4 separate regions of the Homo sapiens genome follow, and regions 1, 3 and 4 are each linked to region 2. Evidence: fine-mapped expression QTL. A gene starts in region 2. Each other region holds a variant in brackets. All regions are shown on one strand. Distances are between the middles of the regions. Region 1 overlaps DMXL2 (Dmx like 2). Region 2 holds the start of DMXL2 (Dmx like 2). Region 3 overlaps DMXL2 (Dmx like 2). Region 4 overlaps GNB5 (G protein subunit beta 5).

Evidence for each region.
Region 1: its variant is fine-mapped to the expression of DMXL2 in whole blood (TOPMed, PIP above 0.99).
Region 3: its variant is fine-mapped to the expression of DMXL2 in whole blood (TOPMed, PIP above 0.99).
Region 4: its variant is fine-mapped to the expression of DMXL2 in whole blood (GTEx, PIP 0.97).

Annotation. Positions count from the first base shown.
Region 1 is chr15:51,529,903-51,535,546 of GRCh38, reverse strand. All of the region lies in intron 13 of DMXL2 (Dmx like 2), which reads left to right. Among named protein-coding and RNA genes, the nearest start is that of DMXL2, 90 kb to the left of the region's middle. The variant A/T (reference allele first, on the strand shown) is at 1,895.
Region 2 is chr15:51,620,436-51,626,079 of GRCh38, reverse strand. It overlaps DMXL2 (Dmx like 2), which reads left to right and starts at 3,309. Exons shown (of 44, transcript NM_001378457.1): 1 at 3,309-3,621. The coding sequence starts at 3,535. It overlaps LOC105370816 (a long non-coding RNA gene), which reads left to right. Exons shown (of 5, transcript XR_932236.3): 4 at 794-905; 5 at 1,255-1,396. RefSeq lists a silencer at 3,172-3,391 and an enhancer at 3,762-4,171.
Region 3 is chr15:51,514,432-51,519,935 of GRCh38, reverse strand. It overlaps DMXL2 (Dmx like 2), which reads left to right. Exons shown (of 44, transcript NM_001378457.1): 14 at 2,769-2,858; 15 at 5,377-5,494. Among named protein-coding and RNA genes, the nearest start is that of DMXL2, 110 kb to the left of the region's middle. The variant A/G (reference allele first, on the strand shown) is at 3,059.
Region 4 is chr15:52,112,748-52,118,391 of GRCh38, reverse strand. GNB5 (G protein subunit beta 5) reads left to right here. Exons shown (of 13, transcript NM_016194.4): 13 at 1-3,292. BCL2L10 (BCL2 like 10) reads left to right here and starts at 5,617. Exons shown (of 2, transcript NM_020396.4): 1 at 5,617-5,644. RefSeq lists a silencer at 5,611-5,644. The variant A/G (reference allele first, on the strand shown) is at 2,497.

The DNA of each region.
Region 1 (5,644 bases), 91 kb after region 2:
TGCATATGACATATATATGACACATTTATTTTTTCCTAAGCTGTGTTCCAAGGTACATGAATCAAAATTTTAGTGTACATACCACACATTAATACATTTTACATGAAAAGAAATAAAAAGGATTTTTTTCTAAAATATTATTTGTTTGTAACATATTTTACTCTCTAGTTTGGTTCTGTTAGTCTTACTTTGCTTAAAAGAAGTTTTAAGGCATCTTTACCAAGCTGTATGTTTAGGTTGGAAAATTGGAACTTTTTCAAGCTTGATTCACCATTTTAAAAAATTCTCTGGTTAGAATTTGTTATCAGTGGGTGGCAGCATCTCATTCTGATAGTTCTGTATCTGAGCTGGAAGTCATATATGTTAGTATCTAGAGTTGAACAGTAGATTTTCCATTTACCTATAAAAACAACTATTCTAATAAAAATGTTTCCAGTATTGAAAACCAATGACTATTTTTGAGCATCTACTATGTTCTCCTAGATGTAGAGGGAATACAAAATATAAGTTTCAGACCTACCTTTAAGGAGCTTTTAATTTAGCTGAAGAGAGAGCTTATTAATAAAAAGTTAAGTAGCAGTTTAAGACATAAGAAGAGGAGTCTAAGGGTGGTATGTAATTAATTGCCAAAAGGATGGCCCTAGAAGTGTTTCATTATTCAGAGGAGAGAGAGAGATCAGATTAAGGTAGGCATAGAATTCTTTATTAAGGACAATATTTGGGTTCATTCTTGATGAGTGGATAAGATTTAGAAAGATAAATTCTTTGTCTTTGCCTGAGTGAGAAAATTGCCTGGAAGTAAGTATAGATACAGGAAAGTACATGTGTAAAGCTTGTTCCAGAAACAGTGAGAAAACCATTTGGATTGGAGCTTAAGGTTTGACATAGAGAAAGTCTAGAAAAATAGAATCATAGAACTAGAATTGGAAGATATTTTAAAGGTCACCTGGTCTCACCAGCCATCTGATGCTTTATTCCCCTCTGCTTCATTCCTGCCAATTTGTCATCTGGCCATCGATGAGGGAGACTCAACTCTAAATGCAGCTCATTCTATCCTTGAATAGCTCACACAATCATATTGAAACGCTATTTGTTTTGTGTACATTCTACTTGCTAGTGCTAGTTCTACTTAGAATAAATCTAATATTTCTTGCGTATGAGAGTACCTCAAGATATTAAAAGACAGCTTTCTTGTAACCTGTGAACCTTACTACCTCAGGCCAAATCTGCTCCCCCTGTGCCTATCAAGTTTCTTTATCTGTTTTACATTTGACCCTGGTTACTCTTCTGAGCAGTTTTCAGTTTGTCTGTACTCTGAGCCTTGTAGGATGACTAAAACATAGCAATATTGTGACCTCTCTCATTAGATACATTTATGTTTTGACAGTCACTCCACATTCTTCGTATGTAATTGACTCATCATGAGCTGACTGTCAATATCCCGAAGTCTTTCCCCCTCCCTGCTCTCTGCTAAACCTTGTCTTCTCCATTCTGTATTTGTACATTTGGATTTGGGGTCCAAATGTAGACCTATTTTTCCTATTACATTTCATCTTGCTAAGCACAACTAAACAGTCCAATCTCTCAGTATCTTTTTGAATCTGGATTATGTTATTTAATGTATTTGTTTTTGCTTTATGACTATGTCACCAGCCTGTTTGAAGAGTGTTATACCTGCACCATCTGAGTCAGTTATTAATATGATAAATAGGCAGGTCTGAAGAAAGAGCCTAGCAGTATACATTTGAAATCTTTCTCCATTTTCATTTTTTGGAATGTTTTCCAGCTTGTTTCAAGGATTTCTGTGAGACAGCTTGCCATATACTTTGCTGAAATAAAATACAGTCTTTCTATCTTCTGCAGTCAACGAAGAAAGTCAAAGTTACATGAGGTG[A/T]TTTGTTTTAATATATGATAGGTGTAATGTGCACACCTTGACATCACTTGGTGACCAAAACATTGTACTAGGTAGACATTAAGCTCCTTGGTCTGCCCTGCAGAAGTATGTTCTTTTCCTTTTTGAAAATGGGAATTTTTGCCTGTTTTTAGTTTTTTGCTATTGATGTCATTCTCCATGATTTGGGGGATTTTGTGTTTTCTTATGGTTCTATTTGTTCTCCATTATACTCAGTGTTTTGTTTTTGGTGGTTCCTCAAGGTTTTATAATATGCATCTTTAACCTCTCATAGTCTACCTTCAAATAATAATATAGTACTCAAAATATAATGTAGCCAGGCACGGTGACTCACACCTGTAATCCAAGCACTTTGGGAATGAGATGGGAAGATTGCTTGACCCCATGAGTTCAAGACCAGCCTGGGCAACATAGTGAGACCCCCCCATCTCTAAATATATACAGTAAACAACTTTCAATAGTGTCCCCAATCTCCCTCTCCTGTGGTCTTCAGCATGCATGTCCTATGAATGTTTTGTTAGGTTTATACATAAGTATTTCATTTATTCTACTGACTGTAAAGGGTGCTGTCTTTTTAATGTTGGTGTCCATGTAGTTATGGCCAGAATATACAAATACAATTGAATATACAAATACAATTGAATTTTGTATGTTTATCTTATATCCTGTAACATTGCTGAATGCATATATTAGGTGTAGGAGTGTTTTTGGTAGATTTCTTGGACTTTTCCATGTAGATAATCATCTCATTATAAATGGGAACAATTTTATCTCTTCCTTTCTAATCTGTATGGCTTTTATTTTTCTTATTTTGTTGCAGTGACTAAAACTTCCAACTCCATGTTGAATAAGAAGTGAGATTGGATGTTCTTGCCTTCTTCCCATTTTTGGAGGAAAAGCATTCAGTCTTTGATCATTACATATAATGTTAGTTGCAGGTTTAAAAAATTTTTTTAAAATTTTTGTGGGTACATAGTAGATGTATATATTTGTGGGGTACATGAAATGTTTTGATATAGGCATGCAATTCTTAGTAATCAAATAATGGAAAATGGGGTATCTATCACCGCATACATTTATCCTTTGTGTTACAAATGATCTAATTACACTCTTCTAGTTATTTTTAAATGAGCAATTAAATTATTGACTATAGTCACCCTGTTGTGCTATCAAATACTAGGTCTTATTAATTCTAACTATTTTTTTGTACACATTAACCATCCCTACCTCCCTGCCAATCCCTTACGACCCCTCCTAGCCTCTGGTAATCACCCTTCTACTCTATCTCTATGGGTCCAGTTGTTTTGATTTTTAGCTCCCATAAATAAGTGAGGACATGCAACGCTTGTATTTCTGTGCCTGGCTTATTTCACTTAAAATAACGACCTCCAGTTCCATCCTTGTTGCTGCAAAATGACGGAATCTCATTTTTTTTTTTGGCCAAGTAGTACTCTGTCGTATGTAAGTACCACATTTTTTTTTTCTTCATCCATTCATCTGTTGATGGATACTTAGGTTGCCTCCAAATCTTGGTTGTTTTGAACAGAGCTGCAACAAACATGGGAGTGCAGATACCTCTTCAGTATACCAATTTTCGTTCTTTTGGGTATGTGCCCAGCAGTGGAATTGCTGGATTGTATGGTAGGTCTATTTTAGCTTTGTGAGCAACCTCCATACTGTTCTCTATCATGGTTGTACTAATTTACATTCCCACCAATAGCATATGAGGGTTCCCTTTTCTCCACATCTATGCCAACATTTGTTATTGCCTGTCTTTTGGATATAAGCCATTTTAACTGGGGTGAGATGATATCTTATTGTAGTTTTGATTTGCATTTCTCTGATGATCTGTGATATTGGGCACCTTTTCATATGTCTGTTTGCCATTTGTATGTCTTCTTTTAAGAAATATCTGTTCAAATGTTTTGCCCATTTTTTGATCAGATTACTAGATTTTTTCCTGTAGAGTTGTTTGAGCTTCTTATATATTCTGGTTATTAATCCCGTTTCAGATGAGTAGTTTGAAGATATTTTCTCTCATTCTGTGGGTTGTCTCTTCACCTTGCTGATTGTATCCTATGCTTTTTAACTTGATGTGATCCCATTTGTGCATTTTTGCTTTGGTTTCCTGTCCTTGTCATATATTACTCAGGAAATGTTTGCTGAGACCAATGTCCTGGAAAGTTTCCCCAATGTTATCTTGTAGTAGTTTCATAGTTTGAGGTCTTAGATTTAAATCTTTAATCCATTTTGATTTGATTTTTGTATGCAGTTAATGATAGGGGTCTGGTTTTATTCTTCTGCATATGGATATCCAGTTTTCCTGGCACCATTTATTGAAGAGACTGTCTTTTCTCCATTGTATATTCTTGGCACCTTTGTCAAAAATGAGTTCACTGTAGGTGTGTGGATTTGTGTCTGGGTTCTCTTTTCTGTTCCATTGTTCTCTGTGTGTGTTTTTATGCCAGTACCATGCTGTTTTGATTACTGTAACTCTGCAGTATTATTTGAAGTCAGATAATATGATTTTTCCAGTTTTGTTCTTTTTGCTTAGGATAGCTTTGGCTATTCTGGGTCTTTTGTGGTTCCATATGAATTTTAAATCTTTAAAAAATTTCTATAAAGAATGTCAGTGGTGTTTTTATAGGGATTGCATTGAATCTGTAGATTGCTTGGGGTAGTGTGGACATTTTAACAATATCAGTTCTTCCAATCCATGAGCATGGAATATCTTTCCATTTTTTTTGTCCTCTTCAATTTCTTTCATCAGTGTTTTACAGTTTTCATTATAGAGATCTTTCACTTCTTTCATGAATTCCTAGGTTCTTAATATTATGTATGGCTATTGTAAATGAGATTACTTTTTGTTTGCTTGTTTGTTTTTGAGACGGAGTCTCTGTCACCCAGGCTGGAGTGCAGTGGTGTGATCTCAGCTCACTGCAACCGCTGCCTCCCAGGTTCAAGTGATTCTTCTGCCTCAGCCTCCAGAGTAGCTGGGACTACAGGCATGTGCCACCATGCCCGGCTAATTTTTTTTTTTTTTTTTTAGTAGAGATGGGGTTTCATTGTGTTAGCCAGGATGGTCTCGATCTCCTGACCTCGTGATCTGCTCGCCTCAGCCTCCCAAAGTGCTGGGATTACAGGGGTGAGCCACTGTGCCCAGCTGAGATTACTTTTTCAAAATTTCTTTTTCAGATTTTTTGCTGTTGGCCTATAGAAATGCTACTGGTATTTGTATGTTGATTGATATCCTGGAACTTTACTGAATTTATCAATTCTAATGGTTTTTGGTGGAGTCTTTAGGTGTTTCCAGATGTAAGATCATGCTTTCTGCCAACAAGGATAATTTGACTTCTTCCTTTCCAATTTGGATGCCTTTTATATCTTTCTTTTGTCTGATTGCCTGAGCTGGCACTTTCCGTACTACGTTGAATAACAGTGGTGAAAGTGAGCATCCTTATTGTGTTCTAGATCTTAGAGGAAAGGCTTTCAGTTTTTCCCCATTCGGCATGATACTAGGGTATAGAAGGTATGTTCCTTCTATACCCACTTTTTTTAGAGTTTTCATCATGAAGGGCTGTTGAATTTTATCATGCTTTTTTAGCATTAATTGATGCTAAAAAATTTTTGTCCTTCATTCTGTTGTCCTTCATTCTGTTGATGAAATGTATCACATTGATTGATTTGTATGTGTTGAACCATCCTTGTGTCCCTGTTATGATAAATGATCTT
Region 2 (5,644 bases):
CCTCAGGTGATCTGCCTGCCTCGGCCTCCCAAAGCTCTGGGATTACAGGCGTGAACCACTGCGCCTGGCTGCCCCTTGACTCTTGAAGATAAAGTCCTTGAGTTCCGTGGTGTAGTGGACAACCTCCAAAATGGCTGCTCACGACTCTCCCTTCCTGGCACTCACTTTCTTGGGAAATAGTCTCCCACACTAAGTTATAGCTGGCCTGTGCACCCAATAAAATATGGTGGAAATGATGGCGTGTGACTTCTAAGGCTAGTTTATAAAAGACATTGCAGTTTCTACCTTGGTCTCTCTCTTGGATCACTTGCTGCTGGAGCAGTCAGCCGCCGTGTCTTGAGGACACTCACACAGCACTATGGAGAGGAACACATAGGAACTGAGGCCTCCATCTATCTATTAGGCTCAACTTGCTAGCCATGAGAGCCTGCCATCTTGGAAGCAGGGCCTTTAACTTCAGTCAAGACTTCAGATGACTGTATCCCTGGCTATTTCTTTTTTAGATAGCTTTATTGAAAGTATAATTTAATTACCATACAATTCACTAATTTCAAGTATACAATTCAATGATTTCTAGTAATTTTACAGAACTGCCCAACCATGACCACAATCTAATTTTAGAATGTTTATCTCATGCCAAAAAGAAACCTCATATCCATTAGCAGTCACTCTCAGTTCCACCTTCAGCCCCAGGCAACCACTAACCTATTTTCTGTGACTGTAGATTTGTCTTTTCAGAAAATTTCATACAAATGATTTCATACAAACGAATTATGTGGTCTTTTGTGTCCAGCTTCTTTTATTTAGCATGTAGCTGACATTTTGATTGCCATCTCATGAAAGACTCTGAACCAGAACTTTCCTGCTAAGCTACTACTAAATTATTGATTCACAGAAACTGTGAGGTAATGAATCTCTACTGTTATTTTTGGCTGATAAATTTTGGGGTAATTTATTGCACAGTAATTGATAACTAGTACACATCGGTAGGTGATACTGCTGGGAAACTAAGTCCCACATTTAATGGCACACATTCAATGGGCCATTAAACCCAACCCCAAAGGTACTATTAAGAGTTGTGTTGGGATCTCAAATCAAAGCAAAAAGAAAAAAAAAAGAGTTGTGGACATGATAAATTATATCTTACAATTCGATTAGCATATTTTGTTAATGATACAAAACTGCTACTTTTTCTAATTTTTAAAAGAAAGCCCTTTCCAAAATTAGAAGAAAGAATTTCCAATTTGTTTTTAGGTCCATGAAAAAATTTGCATGAACAAGGAAGAGATGAAATTGTGGACAGTCAAAAGTGTGGTCTAGCTGCCCTGGTGGGCTACCAAGGAAACTTGCCATATTAGTCTGGAGTGAGTTTTGACTGATCAGATTGGACAATAAAAGGCTCAGCTGTAATTCCAGGAGACTTAATTAGTCATTTGCAACCTTAAGATACAGCTATCAAGAAGCCATTTAAAGGATTCATGAGGGAAGAGAACAGGTGGATACAGGCTTCAGATTTTGAGTTTGATACCGAGAGGAAGAAAGAGGCTCACAACTTCACAACTGTGTGAATGGGCCAAAACTTCATGGAATGCTGTAAAACAAGAGCCAAATGTGAAATGGTTTAAATAATGTGAATTAGTAACACTCTTGGAAACCTGAGTACAATTTGTTGTTTGATGATAGTTTTGACTTGGTTTCTAATGCAGTGAAGGTCAAAGATTAAGAGACTCATCTAGAATCTAGTAGTAACAAAAAGGAACCCTTGGATATGGCGCGGGGGAAGGGAGGAAGGGGGGGGGAGGGAAGGGGAGGGAGGGGGGAGAGAGAGAAAGAGAGAGAATGCCGCAGGTCATTAGGTATTATTTTTCATTCCTCCTGCAACTTTCTACTGAAAAGATTACCAACGACTGACAGATCTTTGCCTCCAATCTTCCCCACCCTTCCCTTTATGCTTCAAAATGCTACAAAGTCATCTTCCCAAAGCAGCTCTGATTATATAAATTTTTGCTCAGAAACATCTGATATACCCCCACTGCATGCAGAGTGAAATCTGGGCTTCTTGGAGCATTCAAGACTCTCCATAATATGTTTTGGTAGGCCAAGAGTTAGACCACTTGGATACCTTGATCTCTTGCTAAGTATTATTTACTTTCCCTACCCTATAAATCATCTGCCTCAAACATTAATCTTTGTACCTTCAACACCCCCTCTATTTTCTGTACTGTATTTGCAGCATTTCTTGTCTATCTCAGCCTGTCAAAATTAAACTCAGCGTTTATGTCAGGTTATGTCTCCATAATGCCTTATCCACGCCCTTAGTCAACATTCTTCTTCCTCTTCTGTGGTGCATAAAGACTTTTATATCTCAATCACACCACCTTTGGCGTTCTGCCTGGTTTTACAGATAGTTATGTCTTGGTGTCCCCTACTTCCTTACCCTGTGATTTAAGCATAGTATGGGTTAGAACATTTGCCATGAATTGGCCTGTGGCAGGGAGCTGATGATCCTTGTTATCAACCATTCAAAGTTTAGCAGATAGTTTGGAAAATCAGGCGATTCTGCTAATTCATGAAATTACTCATGAAAAAAAGTCGAAAGGAGTCACCCGTCTCTAAGGCGGCTTTTTGCTGTCTAGAATAACCGTGACAAAAGGTGGGAGCAAAATAATTAGCTTTCAGGGGAGTATGGCTTCTCTAAATAGTTGCAAGATGCCTACATTGTTTATGTAAAATAAAATATCTTATGTACTGCACTTTCGAAAAGACTGAAGATATCTAAGATATCTCCAGGTGGAAATTCCCGGTGACGGGTGTCCTTCTGAGGTCAACGGCACTGACCATTGCACACTGTATTCTGGAATACGTTCAACACAGCAAAACCGGCTCGTGGCGCGTCCCCGGCGTCCGACTGCTGCGTGGCCCCGAGCGACCTGCACCCCACTCGCCCCCGCCCCCACCTCCGCCCCAGTCCGCAGCGGCTACAGCCCGGGAGGCTCCAAGGGAACTCCCGCACGTCTGCGCGCGCAATCACGGGACGGCGGGTCGGCGTGGCGCGCGCAATTGCCCTGGAAACCACGGCGCGCGCACGCGCAAACGCGGGTGATGGGGGGAAGAAAGACTGAGCTGAGAGCTTTGCCGCGGGGGGAGGGCTCTACCTCGCTCCCCCGCGGTGGGCGCGCGCGCTGGCCCGCTCCCTTGCTGCACGCTCCCGGCTCGCGCGTTCCCCCCGGTGCCCTCCCCCGCCTCACAAGCACCCTTGCCCTCCCGCATTTGTGCGCCGGTGCAGCAGGCAGTGGGAACATCCGGGCATTTCCGCAGCTGAGCGGCGACCCGGGCGGCGGCGGCGGTCGAGGAGCTCCCATGGCAGGGACGAGGCGGAGGGAAGGCGAAAGGGGGGCGAGGAGTTAAGCCAGAGCCTCCGCGGGGCGGGTTTCCGAGGGAGGCACAGAGGGAAACGGCTCTCGCAGCCCGAGGAGGGTCAGGCGCGGAGCTTGTCGCACCTCCCGCGCATTCTGTCCAGCCCGGGCTCCGGAGATGCATCTGCATCAGGTCCTCACCGGAGCTGTCAACCCTGGAGACAACTGCTACTCCGTGGGCAGCGTCGGGGATGTCCCCTTCACGGTGAGCGGCGGCCGGGAGCCCTAGGGGAAGATACCAGGGGCCAGACGCGGGGGCAGGGACCTCCTGTCCAGGGCGCACGCCTCCTCAGGAGGCTGTGAGATGTTGGTGGGCCCCACCCGTGGCCCCTTTGCAGCCTTGGGGTTTAGTTCCCCCTGGGACCCGTGGGACCGTGGGTCCTGCGTCTGGTGTAGGAAATCACCCGTTAGGGGAAAGGCTTAGGAATCCACCGCACTCTCCACCCCAAGCAAACGGGCCTGAGGTGACTGGACTAGAAGGCTCCTCCTAGGGCGGCCCTTCGGTCTGCGGTGGAGGAAAGTGGTGGTGCGGCTGAAACCCCAGAGCGTCCGTTTCGCAGCTGCTCTCGGCGTGGAGGCGAAGAGACTTGGTGTTGGTCTCGGAGCGTGGAGGTGAAGAGACTTGGTGTTGGTCTCGGAGCGTGGAGGCGATGCTGCGCCTTGGCTCCCCCTGCCCGCTGTGCTAGGGCAGCGAGGAGCTGCTGGAGTCTGTGGCTTTAAGCCTGACTCTGTATCTCCTGATAATGCAGGATCTTAATTCCAACAAAAAGATAGAAAAATTCATCCTCCGCGCCCGAAAGATTTAGAATGGAAAGGTTAGAGTCACAGTGGCTTGGAGAGCTGTCTCATTTATCAGGAGGTCGTAGTTTGGTAATCCTCCTAGATAATATTTTAATCTGTAAGGTAGCCTTTTTTTTAATATAGTAAGGCAATGTGAAAAATTTACAACAGTGCTTGTTTGAGAAAAGTGTATGTATACATAACGTTTTAGAATCTCCTTAAAAGCTAGATGAAGTAGACATGTTTCTCAAGGAGATTGGACTCATCAGTCCTTTTTGAGAGTGGAAATGTTTAAACCAAGCCTTGGAGCTTCGTTTACTCATAGATAGACTCCCATAAATTGAGTTCTTTTTTAAAGAATGAAATTTATACATGGTCTTCCTTATAAGGAACTGTAGGCAGCCAGACCTTTATTAAATATATTTTGTAAACTGTTCTTCTTGATAAAACTGGAAATTCCGTAATGGTATGCTTTTTAGACAAGGAAAACCCTTTGATGTCTGCTTTCCAACAGTGTTTTTAAAACTGCGGAAAATAAAGCTTCAGCAAAACTGCAGAATCATTATGTAGCAGTGCATTCTGGAACAGAATTTATTTTTTGACGTTTTGTGATACATTAACCCCAGAAGATTGCTTTTTAGCCATTTTAATTTTTTAGTGTAATCCACTTGGCCTAGCTCCAGTTTAGAACGACCCCTTTTGTCATCTGTGTTTTATGTACATGTGACTTAAAATATTCATATAGAGCTGAGCTTTGTCTTCAAGTGTGTGGAGAATCTTGGTTTTTGGGGATAGAGAGAAGAAATTTCCCTGTTCCCCAGTAGTGCAGATAGGAAGTTCCTCAGGGTTAGAAGAGTGGGCCTCTTTCATCAAGAAACAAAGCTGGAATCTTTGGTTATATTTTCCTGCTAGAATGGTGGTGGTAGTTTTCTGCTTCCATCTAAAGTGGAGTGCTGTCTCACGGCAGGTCTGGTATGTAGAACTAAATAAACGGGTTCAGATGCAGCCTGGAAAAGCCTGTGTAAGAACTGTTAGTGCTGTGCAGGTGTGGTTATGCTGTAGGCCACTTGTGACCAGATGCTTAGAGTCATTTTCAAATCTTCTTGCACTTCCCTAATTCAGCGTTTCACGAAGTCTAGTTGACTCTGCACTGTCTACCAGATTTACTCCTTTTCATATCCTTAACCACCACCTTATTTTACAATCTTATTGGTATTAATATAAAAGCTTTCAAAACTGTCATGTCCGATAACTTCTTCATCCTCCACACCGCTGCTAGGATAATTTTCTTCAAGTGTCATTTTACTATATTACTCTTGGCTTAAGAATATGTAATTGTTTTTAATAGCTGTGTTAGGAAATGTAAACTTGTCAAGTATTCTCCATCTTTGACTTTATTTTTAATTATATGTACTCCTCACTTTGGCCCCTCTGTTACATACTGATCT
Region 3 (5,504 bases), 110 kb after region 2:
TGGGTGCGGTGAACCCTGTAATCCTAGCATTTTGGGAGGCCGAGGCAGGTGGATCACGTGAGGTCAGGAGTTCAAGACCAGCCTGGCCAACATGGTGAAACCCTGTCTCTACTAAAAATACAAAAATTAGCCAGGTGTGGTGGCGTGCACCTGTAGTCCCAGCTACTCGGGAGGCTAAGACAGGAGAATCACTTGAACTCGGGAGGCGCAGGTTGCAATGAGCCAAGACCATGCCATTGCATTTCAGCCTGGGCAGCAAGAGTGAAACTCCATCTCAAAAAAAAAAAAAAAAAAAAAAACAAGAGACTTTGTCAAAACCAGAGAAGCAAAGAAGGAGATTTTGAAAATATTATTAATGTGTTTGTTTCCATTAAAGCCAGAAAAATAAAACTATAATTAGTCCAATTTCTGGTATAAATAAATTTAAACTTAAAGTAATATGTGAGTTTTAATGCACCTACTTTTCAATTTTTTAGCATTTTTTAACTACTTTGATGTTCTGGAAAAATGTTAACTACAGCCAGGTGTGGTGGTTTATGCCTGTAATCCCAGTGCTTTGGGAGGCTGAGGTGGGAGGATTGCTTGAGGCCAAGAGTTTGAGACTAGCCTGAGCAACATAGTGAGACCCTGTCTCTACAAAAAAATTAAAAAATTTGTCAGGCATGGTTGCATGCACCTGTAATCCTAGTTACTTGGGAGGCTGAGATAGGAGGACCACTTGAGCCCAGGAGTTGGAGGCCAATAGAGCAAGACCCTGAAAAAAGAAAAGAAGAATGTTAACCATTAAAAAAAAATATACATCAAAACACATATGTGCAGTTTTGATGCACATTAATGGTATCAGTGTGGCTCATTAAGATACTCTTGGGTTCTATATTTAAATGTTTGATATTTTGCTCATTATGGATTGTTTACATTAATTTTGATTTTAAAATATTGCATTAAAATATTATTTTTCTTGATTATTGAATTTTTGAGCACTCTTTTAAATTTTGCACCCTGGGCGAATGCTTTACTTCATTCTAATTTCCAGTAGTATCTTCCACTATAAAATGAGTTCCTTGGTTGGAGGTGATGTTGAGTGAGATTCTGTAGAATTCTGGAATTCTGTAGTGTAGTGTTCAGAAAGTCTGTTAATTATAGTGCTGGCAGAGAGTTGTGGGCAGGGAAAGCAAATCCTTAGCTGGAATACATAACTATTCTTGTGAGGGGATCTCAACCTTGGCTGCACATTGGAAGCACCTCAATCTCTGTGGGTGGGACCTAAGCATCATTGATTGTTAAAGCTCTCCAGGTGATTCAGTGTGCAGCCAAGATTGAGAACCAGTGATCTACAGCAGTCCTTCTTAAACTTTAATATACGCATGAATCCTATGGAAGTCTCATTAAAATACAGATGTCTTAGTTTCAGGGAGTAAGTATGCATTCATAAAAAGCTTCCCATCACTGCTGGTCCATTGACTACACTTTGAGTAGCAAAGCTTTGTTGTGTGCTACAAAAATTTCACTGTTTTCACCTCACCAACTATAGGCCACAGTTGAGTCCAGATTTCAATGAACAAACCCAGCAGACTGTTAACACCATTTCTTTTTTTTTCCTTTTTGGACGGAGTCTCGCCCTGTCACCCAGGCTGGAGTGCAGTGGTGCAATCTCGGCTCACTGCAACCTCCGCCTCCCAGGTTCAGGTGATTTTCCTGCCTCAGCCTCCTGAATAGCTGAGATTACAGGCACCCTCCATCACTCCCCACTAATTTTTATATTTTTAGTAGAGACGGGGTTTCACCATGTTGGCCAGGCTGGTCTCTTAACTCCTAACCTCAGGAGATCCACCTGCCTTGGCCTGTCAAAGTGCTGGAATTACAGGTGTGAGCCACCACCCTGGCCCTGTTAACACCATTTCTAAATGTCTGAGCTAACACTTTAAATCATGAATCTTGGGTGAACATACCCATATCAGTAAATTCAGCCCTACCTAACTACATATTTTTTTCTTTTGATCTAATAACCCTAGAATCAATTTTCTTACATGCTCTCTGGAATCCTACTGATACAAATAAGAAAGTTTCTACAACTCCAGTGTATATGCTTGTACTTATATCTCCCTACCTTGTACTTATATCTCTAGGCGAAGCTAGCCTCTAACCCCTCTTATTGGCCTTTTTGAGGTAGTGAAAAGTGGTAAAGGTGGGTGCTGAGGAGAATGGGCATTTCTTTCTGAGGCAACCGTTTCAGATGAAGTTACTGAAAGGTTTTTATGCAAGAGAAAGCTGGTTGGAACATGGGTGAGGAGGACTGTTCTTTTTAGCAGAAAGTTTTGGGATTTTGGGGTTCCAAAGTTAGGCTTCATTTGTTTGTTCATACATCCTTATCCCAAGGCACAAGAGTCCCACTTCTTCTCAACCCTTGCCCTTACCTTCGGTCTGGCAGGGTTGTACTTTTAAATGGCATTGCACATCTGCAGACCACTCAGGCATTGGGCCAGATCTTCAGCCATGTCTGTCTTGGGCTTTAAGGTTGCAAAAATGAAGAAGATATGATACCTTGAAGTTATATGCTATTTTTGTAAACATTATAGTTTTCTCTCTGCTTAACTTTAGACTTAACATGAGAATGAGTATGGAAAGTTGAAGTATTTCTTTGAATGTATTACATTCCATTGCCAATCAGTGAATATTTAGAGGGGGCCTTAAATGTCCAAGATGCTGTATCATATTGACATTAGATTATAATTTGTTGGCCATTAACATTTTGTGTTTTTTATTTACAGAAACTTATTGGAGAAGTGTTTAATATTGTGAGCCAACAGTCTACTGCTCGACCTGGCTGCATTATTGAACTCGACGCAATAACCAACCAAGTAAAAACATGCTTGTGAATTGGTGATATTCGTATACTTTATCCCATGGTGTTTTATATGTATATGATATATGTCATTCTCAGAATAATTTTCTTGTTTGTTATTAAATGCAGACAACTTATGTTGATTCCCATAGTGAAAATCTACTAATGATTTAGGGATTATTTTTCTCCTTGGGAAACCAAGAACTGTATGTTCTC[A/G]TTTATAAGTGGGCGCTAAGCTATGAGTATGCAAAGGCATGCAGAGCAATATAATGGACTTTAGAGACTCAGAAGAGGGAGGGTGGAAATGGAACTAGAGATTTGAAAAACCACATGTTAGGTACAGTGTACACTACTTGGGTGATGGGTGCACTAAAATCTCAGAATTCACTACTAGTTCATCCATGTAACAAAAAAACCACTTGTACCCCAAAAGCTATTTAAGTAAAATTTTTTAAAAAAGGAATTATTCTTCTCCAGTTGAATTGTATTTGTAGCAAAGGAAATTTGATTCATTTAGAGAAACCATGACCTTGATCTTGAAATGCTGAGAGAAAATACAGTGCAGCTGCATAGAAGGGTCGGGTTGTGGTTTCTCATTTTATATTATTACTCTTTTCAACTCAATAGAGGGTAACCTCAGTTTCAGAGTGTTTGCCTTGTTAGGCCCCATGTTGGGTACTTTTGTGAGGTCCTTTAAAATGCAGATGAAAGTCAGATTCAAGTGGACATATACTTTTTAATCACAGGTCCTTTGTGTAGTATTCCTCCCCAGCTACTACCTAGGAAAGAAGGAGAACCCTTCTCCCTAGAGGGAGATGTAAAACCCATTTTAGCCCTCAGGATATTTGTTTCTTTAGGACTATGTTTATGGTCTAAGGGATAGAACTAACATTTATTCCAAATGTGAAAAGGATTAGTTTGGTAAAGAAGCTACCAATAGTTTTAAACAAGGAAATGAAGAAAGAGCCAACTATAGTTGAAAGCAAGTATAGAGTTACATCATAAATTTTCTTTAGTGTCTTGCACTTTCTATTGGGGAAAATGTACTCATTTCTGCTAATATAGATAAAATACATCATCTCTTGATAGCAGAACTGGGGCTGCCAGACCCATATTGCTAATACCTCCTGGGAAATGCTTAACTTTTTAATCCCCAGTGCCCCACCTTTCTTCAGATTCAGCCTGTGATTTCTTTTTTCTACTCAATAGGAATGTAGAAGAGTGGGTTGGCTTCCTTCCTATAGATAACTTAATTTTTAATGGATTGGATGTTAAATTCATCCCCTACTTTAGCCTCCTTTGCACTCATTACCATGGGATATTAACACAGTCTGCTCTCACAAAGCAGTTTTTTTACTTCATATTTGCTCAACACTTTTTCCCCTGCTCCTTGTGCCTATTTTTAACACAGGGGCTGGTAAACTGTAAGCAATAATGAATGACAAAGTTTAAAATTCTTTCTAGGTTTGTTCCCAATGTGTTGTATGATTTCTATATCTGTGAAGACATCACCCTTCTCTTTACTTTCATCTATTGTTTGTCCCTTGGGGAAATGACCTCCTAGACAATGAATGTGAAGAGATTTTTAATGTTTCTACCTAGAGAAACACAAAATACCCTATAACTTTCATAAAATTGTATGGCCCAACCTAATATTATAATCCTTTTATTTCTTTCTATTATGTAAAGAGGCAGGTTTTCCTTTATTCTATAAGATTATAGACTCCTCATCCAATGCCAAGATAATCATAGCTGCTTCCTTTTCTTGAAATCTCTGGGGGAGCCATCTGATTGATTGTCTTAATACACTTCCAAAATAAGCTTTTGTTTGGATCTAGCCTTTCCTTGAACTTCAGTTCCTGTTAAGGTTCTAAGTAGCCATTCGTGATAGTCTTAAAACATGGTCATGGAGCATAGCAGTTGACAGTGATGTTTCATCCATCCTTCGAGGGGTTCTAGTTACTTATGTGTAAGTTTAGTTCTCTAGAGATGTATCATCCTGCTGGCTGTTATAGGATCCCTCATAATTCCCACTAGACAGAGCTATTGGGATACTTCGAGGAGCTTTCTGGGTTTTGTTTTGTTTTTTGGTTCTCCAGTGGAATTGAAAAAATTACAAGTTGTGTAGTAGTCTAGTGTGTCTTACATAGTGCAGCCCTCCCTAGTCAGTTGTGAATCTGATGCTTTCAGGCTCAAAGTGGTGAAGGTTGCTTAACTGTTCTTTAAATTTGGAATTTGGGTTTTTTAGCATCTTTTTTTTTTTTTTTTTCCTGAGAAGCAAACCTGTTGATTTGTTTGTACTAGAGCTCTTCTATTCTGCTATTGGCTGTGACATTTTTGAAAGTAATTTTTCTCTGACCAGGATAGTTTTAATGATTCTCTTCTGTTGCTTTTTTCTTTCTAATTAGTAGTGGTAAAGAATAGAAATTGTTAGATATATTTCTTCTGCATTAGCATTGGGGAGGTGACAGATGGGAGATGGGAGACAGGGAATTTCAAAGATAAAACCTCTTCATTTTTTTTTGTATTTGTAGTGTGGCTCAAATACACAGTTGCTTCATGTGTTTCAAGAAGACTTCATTATAGGATATAAACCACATAAGGAAGATATGGAGAAAAAGGAAACAGAAATATTTTTTCAGCCATCACAAGGTACTTTAAA
Region 4 (5,644 bases), 490 kb before region 2:
AATAAAAAAATCACCCATACAAAAAAAAAAAGTGTCAATATTATTATGAAAATAGTTTTGACCGTGAGGACCCCCTGAAAGGGTCTCAGGGACCCTCGGGGGCCCTGGATCTTGCTTTGAGAACAGCTGATCTGGGCTAATGAGCCCTTTTCCAGCCCCTCTGTGTGAGACCTCCCAGAAACCACTAAGGGCCTTGGAAGAGCTTGGCAAAGAAAGAGGTGACAGGATGATTGAGGAGAGCCACCCTAGGGAAAGCCTTCAGAGGAGGCTTTGGGACAGCCCCGGTCGGTGGAGGAAGTCCCAGAGAGGCAGTCGGAAGGGCTAGGGACCAGCTGAGGCCTGTGACCTGAAAATCCTTTCAAAAGAGGACGCCTGGAAGCCTGGGGAAGGCACAGTGGGTGGGGTAGAAGACTGGGGCTGAGGCCCAGGCCATTCCCAAGCCTGGAAGAGCTGATTGAGTGGGGATTTGTAGATCTTCATTTCCCAAACTTGCCTGCTGAGAAGAATCGTCCCACCCATGGCAGGTTCCTGCACTGCGCCTTCAGGGCCCTGCCCTGAGATCTGGACTGGGCGGGCCTGAGGTGGGCCAGGAAATCTGAGCCGGAGGCCCACTGGGGAGGCCGCGAGTGAATCTTGTCTCTGTGGATCCTTTGTAAGGATTGCCATGCTAAACCACTTGCCCTCTCATCCGTGACCGGAGAGAATTGGGTCACTCTTCCAGACATACCACAGACTCCTGCTTCTAGACAGCACTTGGCTGGAGCCAGGCTGGCCTTCAGGGTTGGTCAGTCTCCACAGGGGACTCTGGCCTCCCGTGGGCTGCCACAGGGCCAACCCCAGTGAAAGAAATGAAATGACTGAATATGTTCATGTCATTAGAAAAAGGATGCAGCAGGGGGTGGGGAGGAGTTGGTTAATGGAATCAAATTTGCAGCAAGATAGGAGTCTAGTGTTTGGCGGCACTGTAGGGTGACTATCGCTAACAATAATTTACTGTGTATTTTCAAGTAGCTAGAAGAGAGAATTTTGAATGTTCCTGTCAACCTAAATAACAAAGACAGGCTCGCTAAAGATATTTAATCAAAAGTAGGGCATTGCAACAGGAATATGTGTGCTGTAGTAAACTGTGTGCATATTCCAGGAGGTAAAGAAAAACAAAGGTGACTGGGCGCGGTGGCTCACGCCTGTAATCCCAGCACTTTGGGAGGCCGAGGCGGGTGGATCACGAGGTCAGGAGATCGAGACCATCCTGGCTAACACGGTGAAACCCTGTCTGTACTAAAAAAAAATATATATATATATTAGCTGGGCGTGGTGGCAGGTGCCTGTAGTCCCAGCTGCTCGGGAGGCTGGGGCAGGAGAATGGCATGAACCCAGGAGGTAGAGCTTGCAGTGAGCCGAGATGGCACCACTGCACTCCAGCCTGGGCGACAGAGCGAGACTCTGACTCAAAAAAACAAAGAAAAAAAAAAAGAAAAACAAAGGTTTTTAAAGGAAAAAATGAGGAGGATTACATAATGGTTTTGAAATAATTATCCTTGGCTACAAATATCAATAACAAAGGTCACACCAGTCCGAGGTTGGACAGGCAGTTGCTAGGCAGATGTCTTTGCAGAAGTAATTTTTGTGTGAGGTTGCAGCAGCCTATGTGCAAGGTTGTAATTTTTGCAGAATCTTTTGTGATCATTTTTGGTATTAGGCATACAAGCATGAGAATCCCCTCTTCATGGCCTCCCCAGCTCTATTTGTCATGGTTTGTTTTTTTAAAACACTAGTGACTCTATTTGAATTCTAACAACTTTCACATTCCCAACACAAATGATAGACATTTAAGGGATTAATATGCTAATTACCCTGATCATTACACATTGTATACATGTATCAAAATAACACACTGTACCCCATAAATACATACAATTATGTGTCAATTAAAGATCATTATTTTTAAAAATAGGACCAGAAAAAAAGATGCAGACCCTCTAGTAAGGAGATGGGATCAGGAGTGATTCCATGGTTAATTTAACCCACATAAACAACTAATCGTAAGTATGGTATGAGCGTTTATGTAAAGACTGTGACAACAGGAAATGTCTGTCTTTGAACCCAAGGTTATCTAACCAGCACACCAATGGTGAAAGATTAACTTTGTCAGAAACCAGGAACCATGAAGCAGAGGTCACTGTTTCCAACCTGTGTGTTTTCCACGGTAATTGGCAGCCTCCCCAAGGGAAATTAAAACATATGTCCACACAGAAATTTGAATGCAAATGTTCATAGCAGCATTACTCATAATAGCCCAAAGCTGAAACAGCCCCAATGTTCCACAGTGGATGAATCGATGAACAAAATATGGCGCATCCACAGAATGGAATACAAAGAAAGAAAGCGTGGACACATGCTGCAACATGGATGAACCTTGAAAATATTGTGCCAGGGGAAAGAAACCAGAGACAAAGAGCCACATGTTGTAGGATTCCATGTATATGAAAGGTCCTA[A/G]TAAGCAAACTCATAAAGACAAAAAGCAGATTGGTGGTCACTTAGGGCTAGGGTGAGGAGTGACGGTTAGTGGGCACTGAGTTTCTCCGGGGGGAACTGAATTAGATGGTGGTGATTGCACAATTCTGTGAATAGACTAAAAACCACTGGACTGTAAGAGGGTGAATTTTTTGGTATATGAATTACATCTCAATAAAGCTGTTACTTAAAACGTGGAAAAAATAATAAGCAGTCACTAGCTATTCTCAATAAAACAGAAACCACATAGGTAAGACCAATATTGTCACATTTTGGTTTTGGCTGATAATGGGGCAAGTGAGCATAGTCACCGTTGCCAGAGGATTTACCATTTACAAATAAAAGTTTCTGTGGAGTGACAACCTTTTACTGTGTGCCAGGTACTGTGCTAAGCACTTTGTATATACCGATTCATGTAATCCTTGTGACAGCCCCGTGATGCCCCATTTTTAGATGGGGAGATTGAGGTTAGGAGAGTTGAATAACTTGCCCATAGCTGCACAGCTTCCAAGTTGCAGAGACAGGATTTTCACCGAGTCTTATTACAAACTGCCTCATATTGTGTGGACTGGAAATTCTATGTTGAGGTTAATTTATTCATTTGTTGTTTAGTTCTTTTCATCATTGTTGAGTTACCAATGGCAGTTCCAGAGGATTTATCATTTACCCCAAAGCTACTGCAAATCTAAGAGAAAACAATGTTCTTGCTGCTAAAGTTTAATGTACAAAAAGGTAAAATCATGACTGTCTTGCAAATAAAACATGAACATGTATCCAAGCTTTTAACTCACTGATTAATAAGGAAACCAGTAAGACGTCAAAACCAGTTCAAATGGGAATTTGATGTACAGAAATTTATATTCTAACAACACTTATTTAGTTCACTGTAAGAAATCATTTGCTTTGGCAGATTAGGCACTCAGCAGAAGCACCAGCCAGCTCAGCCTTTGGAGGGAGAATTCCATGTTGTTGGACCCATACATATCCTCTGTCCCTGCTGCCAAGAGCTCTTTGTTCATCGGCCCGTTGAGCAGACACCACAGCAGCTGCATAGAGAGGCTGGCTGACAGCCACAGAGCATGTAATTCTGTCCATCTGATTCAGGGTCTTCTCTGCAGTGGATGCCCTTTGGTGGGCATTCAGGTGAGATGCAGATATCTTCAGTCTGCCCATTCGGAGGGATTCAGCCACATATCTCTTTCCAAGATTTTCTTGTCACCAATCTTCCAGTCCTGTTCTTTTTAAGGCCCTGACCATCCAGCTAAACCATCAGCGACTGTCCATGAATCAATTTAGGTCTGTATTCTGGCCATCTCTCACTCCAGACATAGTGGACAGCCTTGAGTTTCTGCTCACTGGAAGGATTCTCCTTCACCACTGCCCTTCACAGTCACCCCTGAGTGAGTGTGAGTGAATACTGCAGCTGTTCTCTTTCATGTGGTACCAGCACATCATACAGACCCATCTATAATCCAGGCTGGAGGTTTTTCTCCCTCAGTCAACTGGACATAGGCAGCATCCCAAGAAGCCATAGTTGTAGAATGAGGGAGAGGAGGCAAAGCAACAGGAGTTGATGTTGGAAGAGTCTGAGCCGCCTGCTCATACAATTTACTTATACCTTCTGAACCTGCCTGGGCTGTTTCTAATACACCATTTCCATTTGATGATAGGTGGCTGCTGTATACATCCAATTTTATGGCTACGTAGGTCAGATGACATCCAGTTCATGATGGGAGCTCAAGCTTCATGGTCAGGCATTCTGCCTCTATCAAGGCCTAGTAGCAAGGCAGAACCTGCTTCTCAGAAGGAGAGTAGTTATCTTCAGAAGAGGTTCTAGATTTACTTTAGAATTCTAGAGGTCTGTACTCTCTCCTGTCAGTGCTTGCCAGAGGCTCCATACAGCATCCCTGTTGGACAAAGTCCCACTGGATCTGTTGGATCACAAGACCCAAGTGGTAGGGCAGCTTTACTGCAGCCTGAACCTTCTGCAGAGTCTTCTCTTATTCTGCTCCTCAATCCACCAGCCTGTCAATTGGGTTGAAATAGCACAAACACAGTATATGTTGCCTTCAAAGTCCAAAATGGCTTACTGTTCCAGGCTGTGTCCCCCAAAATTCATATGTTGAAATCCTAACCCCCAGTGTGATGGTATTCAGAGATGGGGCCTTTGGGAGGTATTAGATCACAAAGGTGGAGCCCTCACGAATGAGATTATTGTCCTTATAAAAGAGACCCCGGAAAGCTACTCCACACCTACTGCAATGTGAGGACACAGCAAGAAGCCTGTTGTCTATGAACCAGGAAGCAGGTCCTTACAAGACACAGAACCTGCCAGGGCCTCAACCTTGGACTTTTTAGCCAACAAAACTGTGAGAAATAAATGCCTTTATTTATAAGTCACCCAGTCTATGGCATTCTGCTATAGCCGCCTGGACAGACTAAGACAGCTGCCAAGTGCCGTGCCTCTTTTGTAGTGATGCAAGATGCAGCAACTCATCTTTCACCCTGGGAGGGCTATTTCAACATGCTCCAGACCCCTGAACCCCCAGAAATACCACTGCTAGTATCCATTCTGCATCAGTCTGGATCCAATCAGGAGAAAGAAGCCACGGAGTAATATGAACTGAGAAAGTTTAATATAAATATTAGATGGCCGGGCGCGGTGGCTCACGCCTATAATCCCAGCACTTTGGGAGGCAGAGGCGGGCGGATCACGAGGTCAGGAGATCGAGACCATCCCGGCTAACACGGTGAAACCCCGTTTCCACTAAACAATCCAAAAAAATTAGCCAGGTATGGTGGCGGGCGCCTGTAGTCCCAGCTACTCGGGAGGCTGAGGCAGGAGAACGGTGTGAACCTGGGAGGCGGAGCTTGCAGTGAACCAAGATCGCGCCACTGGAGCTAAATAACCCGAGTCTCACAGTGCATCTGATTGCTACGCGAACACGTGCGCACCACCAGGCCTTGCCTTGGGGACTGGAACAGGTGCAGGTGGGATTCCCATCAAAGGCTCTTCTCTCAGTCCTGAAAAACAATATACCGGGGGCCGGGGGCCGGGGGCCGGGGCGGGGCACGGCAGCCCTACCCTGGGGGAGGCGCGGCCGGGCCAAGAAAACCAGCGAAGGCCCGG